2 separate regions of the Homo sapiens genome follow, and region 2 is linked to region 1. The links come from fine-mapping of genetic effects on gene expression. A gene starts in region 1. The other region holds a variant in brackets. All regions are shown on one strand. Distances are between the middles of the regions.

Region 1 (5,215 bases):
TCCAGTGGGGCCAAAGGGGGGCTGGCTGAGGGTCCGTGGGGAGCACCCTGCCCTGCAGCCCGTCTCCTACCCCCTCGCAGTGGCCCTCGCCAGCCCACTACCAGCTGCTCAGCCGGCCCGCCTTCCCCGCCTTCAGCTTCAGAGGCTGCCACTCCGCTTCCAAGACACCTGAAGGCCACACCCACCTAGGGCTGCCTGGGGCTAGGGGGCTGGGCCTCAGGGTGCAGCCCCAGTCCCTGCTTCAGGCCTCTTTGCAGGCACCTGGCAAGAGATGCCCTGGCCCCAACACCTACAATATCCTTCCTGGGAGCCGCCTGCAGAGCCCCCGCTCGCCGGCCTTCTCGATGAGCCGCTCCCCTGCGTTCACCTCCTGGCTCAGCACCTGTAAGGAGGCCTGGAGAGAAGAGGGCTAGGGATGGGGCATGGGTGGGCAATGTGAGGACAAGGGTTCAGGGGCCGGGGGTGGGAACTGGGAGCCAGGTTTGAGTTGGGGCTGCTACCTGGGTGGGGCTCCCAGCCTTCTCTTTCGGCAGCCCGAACCCCTGGCCCAGCCGCCTACCACGTGGAGGACTGCAACTCACGCTTCCCTTCGGCGCCTGGCGTGGTCATCCAGGGTGTACGCAGACCCAAGCGCCACGACACAGGCCCCTTCTGCACGCTCTAGAGCCAGCTGGGCACAACCTGCTTGGCCCGGCCACCGAGTGGAACCATGGCCTCCCCCGGGGCTTTCCCAGGCCTCCCCTGGGACTTGGGGCCCCAGCCTGGCCTTCTGACCCTCTGGGCACCCCGATGCACCCTTCTGGCTGGCCAACCCTTCTATGGGCTGTGGACAAGGCTGGCCCAGCCTGGATCCCCCATCTGCCCATCTCCCCGCTACACTGAGATGCTGTTGGTTTTCCCGAGCTCTGTGGTGTGCAGTTGTCTGTCCTTCACCCGGGGGCGGTCCTAGAGATATGGCTGCCGCTGGGTCATTTCCGGCTTTCCCTGTTGAGGGGTCTCCATTCAGCTGCCCCTGAAAGGTGCTCTCTTCTCTAGGGTGGCAGCCTGTGACTGACCCTGAGCTCTAGCCTGGAGCGAGATGGGAGGTGGGCTCTGTGGGACACCCCCACCCAGCCGTGTCACTCAGGGGCCTGGTCTAGCTGCTGTCCACCTGAGGGTCAGCTGCTTGCCGAGCCAGGGAACTGGGAAGGAGGCGTCAAATGCCCTGAGCCGCCACCTCCAGGTGGGGTCGGCCTGGCCAGACCTCAGGAAGGGCCCAGGGATCTGCTCACCAGGGCCCAGCCCCACTTCCCCTAGGCCTTGAGCTGAAGACCTGGCTGGGCTTAGTCACCTGTGCCCTGAACACTCTGGCCCAGGGCCCTGCAGACTCCACTCCCGGGGCCTTCACCTGCTGGGACCCTGCACTGCCCCTGCCTGCAACTTCGCCTGGCTGGGGCCTCCCTTGTCATCACTGGCCTGCCCTCCTACCCAGGGTCGGGCCCCAAGGCTGCCACCTTGCAGGAGCCTTACCTGCGGTGCCGTCACCCGCACCTCCCCAGGTCCTCCCCAGACCCAGGACCCAGACCAGGCCCAGAGCTCAACCCCTTCAAAAAGGCTCTGGGCAGCTGCTTCTGTGGCCTCAGCACCACCCCCTTTCTCAGAGAGGAATCCCAGGCTCAGGATTGTGTGTGTGCTGTGACCCTTGTCCTCCTCTGCCACCGAACCAGCTGGGGGTTGGATCAAGGCACTGGAACCCTCGCCCTAGGGCTGACCAACTTGGCCAGCGGCAAGAGAGCTGTGGTAGCCATGGCCTTGGGAGCTCGGCCCGGCTTGTGGGAACAGGAGCTCTGCTCACGGCTGCACCACCAGGCACCCCTGGTGAGACCCAAAGCTAGGAGTGGGAGCGGCAGGAAAGATGGAGCGATCTCCTCCAGCTGGGCTGAGGAGGGAGGGCTTCCTGGAGGAGGTGGTGGAGGAAGAAGCCTTCAAGGAAGAGCAAGAGTTTGCTGGGCAGCGGGAAAGAAATTTCTAGAGAAAATTTCAGCAGCGGAGACCGAAAAGAGAGAGGGTGTGTGTAGGGGGCTTGGCGCGGCACAGCCTGCGGGAGGGCGGCGGGCTGGAGAGGCGGGGAGGCCCGGGGAGCCCACCCGCCTGGGATAAGAAGGGACACTGTGGAACCTGGACTCTCCTTCACGGCTCCGCGGAGCTCGGTGGGCGCCACAGCCTCCCGGTGCCTGGGAGGGCGGCCGTCGCTCGCGCTCCCGCTGCGGGCCCGGTCTCCGCCAGGCCCCGGCCCCCTGAAGGCGCTCAGATCTCAGTTTTGGCGACAGCGCCGGGGTGGGCTTCGTGCCCGTTTCACGCGGAGGAACCCACGCTCAGGAGGGAGTCTGCGCCTGTGTCCGGCCCCTGCGGGGCAGAGGGGCGGGGAGCTCAACCCCCGGCAAAACGTCCCCGCTGCGCGTGGCTGCCGCGAGATCTGCAAGAGCGTTTTCCACGCTTATGTACACGAAATTCACTCGGCTGCGACGACGTCCGTTCCCGGAGCAGACGGACCCTGAGTCCGCCCCCCACGCCCTCACCCGCCCTCTTCTGCCAGAAAGCCCGGGCGCGGGCGGGACCGGGTGGGCGCATGCGCGCTGGGCTGGCTGGGCGGGGTCTCTCGCGCCGGGTGAGGGCGCTGCTCCCAGGAACCTGCGCGCGGCCCCGGCGGCGTTTCCCGGGGGCCGGTTGGCGGGCGGACCTGGGCGGTGCGGGGCGGAAGTGGGCGGCTGCGGGACGCGCGCGGAGTCGCGCGGCGGGCGGGACCTGGCCGAGCTGGAGGGCGCCGGGGAGCGGGGCTCGGGCGGTCCCCGAGGCCCGGCGGAGCGGGCTTCTGGGGTGTCTGCGGCGGCGCCGGGGGAACGGGCTGGGGATGGGGCGCCTAGCCGGGCGGTGGCCGGGGCCTCGGCCATGTTCGCGGGGCTGCAGGACCTGGGCGTGGCCAACGGCGAGGACCTGAAGGAGACCCTGACCAACTGCACGGAGCCGCTCAAGGCCATCGAGCAGTTCCAGGTGGGGCGGCCCCCGGGGCGGGGGGAGCCCAGTTGGAGGGCCGGGCCGCCTGCTCGGGAGTCGGGCCTGGCGGAGGCGCCGGAAGTTTTCCGGCTTTCTGCTGGTGGCTGAGTCCTGTTCTGGGGGTGGAGTCCGGAGCCAGCACCCCTTTGCTGGACGGCTGGGTGGCTTTCGGTGGCTGCGGTTACCGCCAGCACGGCTGGGAACACCTGGGTGCGTGCCTCCCTGTGCTCTCAGGACCTCGGGGTGCCCGGGCGCACTGGGCTGCGTTTGAGGTTTCTCTTGGCTTCCTCAGACAGAGAATGGTGTGCTGCTGCCATCTCTTCAGTCAGCCCTCCCCTTCTTGGACCTGCACGGGACGCCGCGGCTGGAGTTCCACCAGTCGGTATTCGATGAGCTGCGGGACAAGCTGCTGGAGCGAGTGTCAGCCATCGCTTCGGAGGGGAAGGCTGAGGAAAGGTGGGTCAGCGGGAGGGGTGGGCAGGTGAGATGTGCAGCCGGCCTCTCAGCCTTGGATCGACTCAGGGGCATTTATTGTCCTTTTGGCTCCACATCCTTGCTCCCAGAGGTGGCCTGGGCCTGTGTCTGAGTGACCCCTTGACCCATGTGTCCTGGGCGTGGAGGCTTGTCCTGGTAGCTGTTATCTGTGTAGGGACAGGCAGGTAGCTGCTGCGATTTGGCGCATCGCTGCACCATCAATCCTGTGAGTTGTTCCAGGTACAAGAAGCTGGAAGACCTTCTGGAGAAGAGCTTTTCTCTGGTGAAGATGCCGTCCCTGCAGCCCGTGGTGATGTGCGTCATGAAGCACCTGCCCAAGGTAGGGCCCTAACCCTAACCCTGATGGCGTGGACCGTCCGCCCACTCTCATGCCCTTGGTTAGTGGAAGTTCCGGTGGCCGCCTAGCTCCGGGAGCTTCCTGTGCTGCCTGCCCAAGTGCTGTCCATGGTGAGCTCTGTGCTGACTTCTCCCACATGAGCCGCGTGGAGACCGAACCTTAGCACTGGAGTTAGGGTGTGGGGCCCCTCCTGGGAAAGAGCTGTTGGTATTTAGCATGTCTGTCTGACATGCTGGGGCCGGGGAACCAGTCATAGGTGCCCTGTGGGGTGGAGCTTAGCTCGAGGTGGTCTCTGCGGGGCTGAGGCCTCTTGGCTTGTCTTGAAGGAGACCCAGGGACACAGGTGCCACTCACAGGCAGCCTGTGGTGTCATGTAGGTTCCGGAGAAAAAACTGAAGCTGGTTATGGCTGACAAGGAGCTGTATCGAGCCTGCGCCGTGGAGGTGAAGCGGCAGATCTGGCAAGACAACCAGGCCCTCTTCGGGGACGAGGTTTCCCCACTCCTGAAGCAGTACATCCTGGAGAAGGAGAGCGCTCTCTTCAGTACAGAGCTCTCTGTCCTGCACAACTTTTTCAGTCCTTCCCCCAAGACCAGGCGCCAGGGCGAGGTGAGGGGACAGGCCGTGTGCGGGGTGGGGCACCTCTTGGGGATGCCACGGCTAGCGCCTTCAGCTGCCTGGGGATCAGCACTCTGCTGCCCTGTGAATGATCGGGTGGTTCTGCTTCTTGGCTGGGTGGTGGGGGAGGGCTGGCTTGTACACATGCTGGAAAGAAAGTTGGTTGTTTTTCTGTTTGCATTTTACTTTTCGTTAAAGTGATATATGGACAACATTTAAAATCTGCGGAAAGCCCGCTCATGTGAAGTTAATCCCCCCTCCCCTACTTTTTTTCTTTTTCTTTGAGACGGAGTCTCGCTCTGTTGCCCAGGCTGGAGTGCAGTGGTGTGATCTCGGCTCACTGCAAGCTCCCGGGTTCACTCCATTCTCCTGCCTCAGTCTCCCGAGTAGCTGGGACTACAGGCGCCCGCCACCATGCCTGGCTAATTTTTTTTCTTTTTCTTTTTTTTTTTTTTTGAGACGGAGTTTCGCTATTGTTGCCCAGGCTGGAGTGCAATGGCGTGATCTCGGCTCACTGCGACCTCCGCCTCCCAGGTTCAAGCAATTCTCCTGCCTCAGCCTCCCGAGTAGCTGGGATTACAGGCATGCATCACCACGCCCGGCTAATTTTGTATTTTTAGTAGAGATGGGATTTCTCCATGTTGGTCAGGCTGGTCTTGAACTCCTGACCTCAGGTGATCCGCCCCCCTCGGCCTCCCAAAGTGCTGGGATTACAGGGGTGAGCCACCGTGCC
Region 2 (5,215 bases), 670 kb after region 1:
CACAGCCCTCAGTGTCCACTGGGGCTTGGCCAGGGGCCGCACATGACTCAGATTCTTCTGCCTGGGTCTCTGCCTCCCGCAGGAGGGGATGGGCAGGAGCCCCATCCTGGGGCAGGCAGCACTGGCCAGGAGGGGCCACAGAGGTTTCAGCCAGCATGTGTTTCAGTAGGACCCAGTGAGTGCTGGCTCCGCTTACACAGTGGTGAGCAGAGGCATTCGACACGTAAGGGCATGGACAGTGGCGAGTGCCGTGAAGAAAACAGAAGAGGTTGAGGAGCAGGCAGTGACGAGGTACAGGGTACTGGGAGGGCAAGGCCTGGTGAGGTCTAGAAACCAGACATGCAGATGCTACAACACCTTGGAAGCTTGGCCGGGGCAGCAAGATGCAGTCATGGCAGTGCCTGGGGCTGGCGCCACACAAGGCCCCAGAGCAGGTAGCCAAGAACCGACCAGTCCGCTCCTCCACACTAAGGGCATACAGGGTCGGTCACTGGAGATTAGACAGGAGTTTTGAAGAGGATCCTTTGGAGAGAGCGAGAGCCCGCCCCTCACCTCCAACCCAGTGAGAGGGACTTTTGTGGCCCCTCGGATATACGCTCCTTCAAGCAATGACATCTGGGTTCTTTGTGGGCGGAAGCCCACGGCCTGCAGTAGGGGTGGAGGCAGAGAGATGGAAAGCTCAGTCCGTGTTGGGAGCAGGAGTGGGGGTGTGAGCAACAGCGGGCAGCCAGGACCGGGTGAGTGATGGGGTCTCAGAGTGGATTGCTGAAAAGCTGGTGGCAGCGGGTGGGGCAGCGTGGGGGCACTCCAGCTTGAGGAGAAATGGCTTTGTCTGTGCCTGGAAAAGCAGGCGGAGTCAAATGGAGCTTTGGGAGAACACACGGATGAGCCTGGGGAGAGACGAGTCGGCAGTAAATTCCTGTTAGGTCCAGAGAGGTGAGATCATCTCAGGACAGCACCGCACGAGGAATAACAGCTGTCCCTTCTCCCTCCCCTGCTGTGATAGTGCTGGGTACAGGGGAGCAAAGAGGGGCCGTGTCTTTCTCTTCCACTGAAAGCAACCAGCTGTGGCAGGCCAGCCAGCGAGAGTGGGTATTGTCATGGTGAAGCATGTCAGTTTGATGGCCAGCTGAGACTGAGACTGGACACTTTCTTTTTTTTTTGAGACAGAGTCTTGCTTTGTCTCCCATGCTGGAATGCGATGGCACGATTTTGGCTCACTGCAACCTCTGCCTCCTTGGTTCAAGTGATTCTCATGCCTCAGCCTCCTAAGTAGCTGGGATTACAGGCACGAGCCACCCCATCCAGCTAATTTTTGTATTTTTAGTGGAGACAGGGTTTCGCCATGTTGGCCAGGCTGGTCTTGAACTCCTGACCTCAAGTGATCTACCTGCCTCAGCCTCCCAAAGTGCTGGGATGACAGGCATGAGCCACCACACCTGGCCTGAACACTTTCAACTGCCGAGTTGAAACTGTATTTTCCACTTGAAAGTGGCTGTAGAACTTCGCCTTACCCAGGAGCTGTCAGAATGGTCATGGGCTTGTCCAAATTATCATCTAGGGGCATGGGAAGGATTTCTCCAATGACCATGTTTGGAGGCGCAGTGGAGGTAAATCATGTTGCTTTATGATTATGCACGTATGCTTTGCTTATGTTCATTGTACTAGTTCCGTGAAGATCCAAGTTTGAAAGTGTTCAGATCCATAGCTGCATTTTGATGCTAGCACAAACAGGCCTTGCTCATAGAGTGGATGTGAGAGAAGGAGAAGTCTCAACGATGATGTGACTTGAGGCACTGAGAAAGGTGATGCCATTTACTAAGAAAGGGAGAATCGGGAGACACGAATTTACTTAGTTTTGTTATAGCAGAGGGTGGTGGCGGAACTCCAGGATTCTGTTTTGGCTCTGCAAAACTTTAGATAACTATTTTCATACAAGTGGAGATCTTGGGTGTGTAGGTGGGTGTTTGAGAGGGAATTCAGAGGGAACAGCAGGCTGATGAGCATTTGAAGTACTTGACTCATGGACAGTGTTTAAAACTATGTGAGAGGATGAGATCACCTGGGTAATAAGTGCAGATGGAGAAAAGAAGGCCCAAGGCTGATACTGGGGAGAATTCCAGCACTCAGAGGTCCAGTAGGAAAGCAGGAGCCACGAAAGAGATGGGGCTGGAGCTTTTAAGGGGGCAGGAAAAACACCACGACCACACAGCATCCCGGGAGCAGAGTAAAGCGTTCGGAGAACATGGTCAGCACCACGGCCGCGCAGCATCCTGGGAGCAGAGTAAAGCGTTCGGAGAACATGGTCAGCACCACGGCCGCGCAGCATCCTGGGAGCAGAGTAAAGCGTTCGGAGAACATGGTCAGCACCACGACCGCACAGCATCCTGGGAGCAGAGTAAAGTGTTCGGAGAACATGATCAGCACTGCAGCCGCGCAGCATCCTGGGAGCAGAGTAAAGCGTTCGGAGAACACCATCAGCACCGTGACCGCACAGCATCCTGGGAGCAGAGTAAAGCGTTCGGAGAACATGATCAACACCACGACCGCACAGCATCCTGGGAGCAGAGTAAAGCGTTCGGAGAACCTGATCAGCACCACGACCGCACAGCATCCTGGGAGCAGAGTAAAGCGTTCGGAGAACACGATCAGCACCACGACCGCACAGCATCCTGGGAGCAGAGTAAAGCGTTCGGAGAACACGATCAGTACCGCGATCACACAGCGTCCTGGGAGCAGAGTAAAGCGTTCGGAGAACACGATCAGCACCACGACCGCACAGCATCCTGGGAGCAGAGTAAAGTGTTTGGAGAACATGATCAGCACTGCAGCCGCGCAGCATCCTGGGAGCAGAGTAAAGCGTTCGGAGAACATGGTCAGCACCACGACCGCACAGCATCCTGGGAGCAGAGTAAAGTGTTCGGAGAACACGATCAGCACCGCGACCGCACAGCATCCTGGGAGCAGAATAAAGCATTCGGAGAACATGATCAGCACCACGACCGCACAGCATCCTGGGAGCAGAGTAAAGCGTTCGGAGAACATGATCAGCACCGCGATCACACAGCATCCTGGGAGCAGAGTAAAG[T/C]GCTCGGAGAACATGATCAACACCACACCGCACAGCATCCTGGGAGCAGAGTAAAGCGTTCGGAGAACATGATCAGCACCACGACCGCAAAGCATCCTGGGAGCAGAGTAAAGCGTTCGGAGAACATGATCAGCACCACGACCGCACAGCATCCTGGGAGCAGAATAAAGTGCTCGGAGAACATGATCAGCACCGCGATCACACAGCATCCTGGGAGCAGAGTAAAGCGTTCGGAGAACATGATCAACACCACACCACACAGCATCCTGGGAGCAGAGTAAAGCGTTCGGAGAACATGATCAGCTGGGCCAGATGTTGCTGGAGGTCAAGGAAGATGGGAAGCCCGGACTGTTGCGTTTGATAAGAGGAAGGTTGTTGGTAAACTTGGCAAGGGCGGTCTCAGTGGTGGGACAACGCCCTGGAATGCGTGGGTTACAGGGAGGAGGAGGTGAGGAAATCAGGGTGGCAACCGCAGATGACTCTTGGAGGGAGCAGAGCAGTGGGAAGTAACTGCAGGGAGACAGGGGTTAAGGGAATGGGCTTTTAAAAAATTAAACTTTTAATTTAAGATAATTGTAGATTCACATGCAGTAGTGAGAAATACAGAAATAGCTCATGCATCCTTTACCCTTTTCTCCCAGTGGTGACAACCTGCAAAACTATAGTCAGGGTCACAGTTAGGATATTGATGTTGATACATCAGTATCAATGATGTTGACACAGTGAAGACGTAGAGCATCTCCATCCCTGCAGGGGTCCCTCCTGCTGCCCTTTTGTGGTCACACCCGCATCTCTCCTGCCCTCGCCCCCTCCTTAATCCCCGGCAACCACTAATCTGTTTGCCATATCTATAATTTAGTCATTTTGAGAATGTTACGTGGACAAAACCACACCAAATGTAACCTTTTGGTACTGGCTGCTTTCACTCAAACAAAATTCTCTGGAGGTTCACCCAGGTGTTGGTAGCATGTTTCCTTTTACTGCCAGGTAGTATTGAGTGGTGCCAGGTGTCAATTTGTGGTGCCAGGTAGTATTCCGTGGTGCCAGGTGGTATTCCGTGGTGCCAGGTGGTATTCCGTGGTGCCAGGTGGTATTCCATGGTGCCAGGTGGTATTCCGTGGTGCCAGGTGGTATTCCATGGTGCCAGGTGGTATTCCATGGTGCCAGGTAGTATTCCGTGGCTCCAGGTGGTATTCCGTGGTGCCAGGTAGTATTCCGTGGCTCCAGGTGGTATTCCGTGGCACCAGGTGGTATTCCGTGGTGCCAGGTAGTATTCCATGGCTCCAGGTGGTATTCCGTGGCTCCAGGTGGTATTCCGTGGTGCCAGGTAGTATTCCGTGGTGCCAGGTGGTATTCCCTGGTGCCAGGTGGTATTCCGTGGTGCCAGGTAGTATTCCGTGCTATGGCTGTACCATGGCTTGTTTAACCGTTCACCTGTGGAAGCTTCCAATTTGGGGTTATTATGAATAGAGTTGCTGTACACATTTTTGTGCAAACATAAGTTTTCATTTCTCTGGGATAAATGCCAAAGAGTGCAAATTTCTAGGTATAGTAGTTGCATGCTTAGTTTTTTAAGAAACCAAAGCTTTTCCAGAGGGCTACACTCTTTTACATTTCCACCAGTGGTGTGTGAATAGTTCAGTTTTTGTGCATTCTGGCCAGTGTTTGGTGGTGACACTTTTTTATTTTAGCCATTCTGATAGGGGTATAGTGACACATCACTGGTTTTAATTCGCATGTCCTAACAGTGAGTGGTGTTGAGCATCTTTCTGGACTTATTTGCCATCTGTGTATCTTTGGTGAAACGTCTCTTCACATCTTTTGCCCATGTTCTGTTTGAATTGTTCTTTATATATTCTAGGAACTGGTTCTTTGTCATATATATGGTTTGCAAATATTTTCTCCTAGTCAGTAGCTTATCTTTTCATACTTTTCACCTGGTCTTTCATGGAACAAATGTTTTTAAAATTTGATCGAGTCCAGTTTATCAATTTATCCTTTTGTGGATTGGGCTTTTGGTGTCAACTGTAAGAACTCTGCCTAGTCCTGAATCCTGAAGATTTTCTTTTTTTTTTTCTAAAAGTTGTATTGTTTTATATTTTACATGTAAGTTTACAATCTATTTTA

Alleles and levels. Alleles are on the strand shown, and positions count from the first base shown. SD is a standard deviation of normalised expression in the study named.
For the expression in naive CD8 T cells of the gene that starts at base 2,746 in region 1, allele T in region 2 goes with a lower level than allele C (moderate effect, 0.73 SD a copy in Schmiedel 2018).

What was found. PIP is the estimated chance that this variant, and not a neighbour inherited with it, causes the effect. A credible set is the group of variants that fine-mapping cannot tell apart.
Region 2: its variant is the best candidate, but not a certain one, in a credible set for the expression of NELFB in naive CD8 T cells (Schmiedel 2018, PIP 0.56).

The regions. Positions count from the first base shown.
Region 1 is chr9:137,252,582-137,257,796 of GRCh38, forward strand. NELFB (negative elongation factor complex member B) reads left to right here and starts at 2,746. Exons shown (of 13, transcript NM_015456.5): 1 at 2,746-3,030; 2 at 3,326-3,489; 3 at 3,748-3,847; 4 at 4,243-4,473. The coding sequence starts at 2,785. STPG3 (sperm-tail PG-rich repeat containing 3) reads left to right here. Exons shown (of 6, transcript NM_001004353.4): 5 at 81-384; 6 at 534-902. The coding sequence ends at 664. STPG3-AS1 (STPG3 antisense RNA 1) reads right to left here and starts at 916. Exons shown (of 4, transcript NR_038389.1): 1 at 582-916; 2 at 294-394. It also overlaps a transcript of CIMIP2A not described here. RefSeq lists silencers at 2,114-2,293, 2,484-2,853, 2,864-3,043, 3,084-3,143 and enhancers at 2,154-3,101, 3,102-4,049.
Region 2 is chr9:137,919,052-137,924,266 of GRCh38, forward strand. The region is part of intron 6 of CACNA1B (calcium voltage-gated channel subunit alpha1 B); the gene reads left to right. Among named protein-coding and RNA genes, the nearest start is that of CACNA1B-AS1, 25 kb to the right of the region's middle. The variant T/C (reference allele first, on the strand shown) is at 3,089.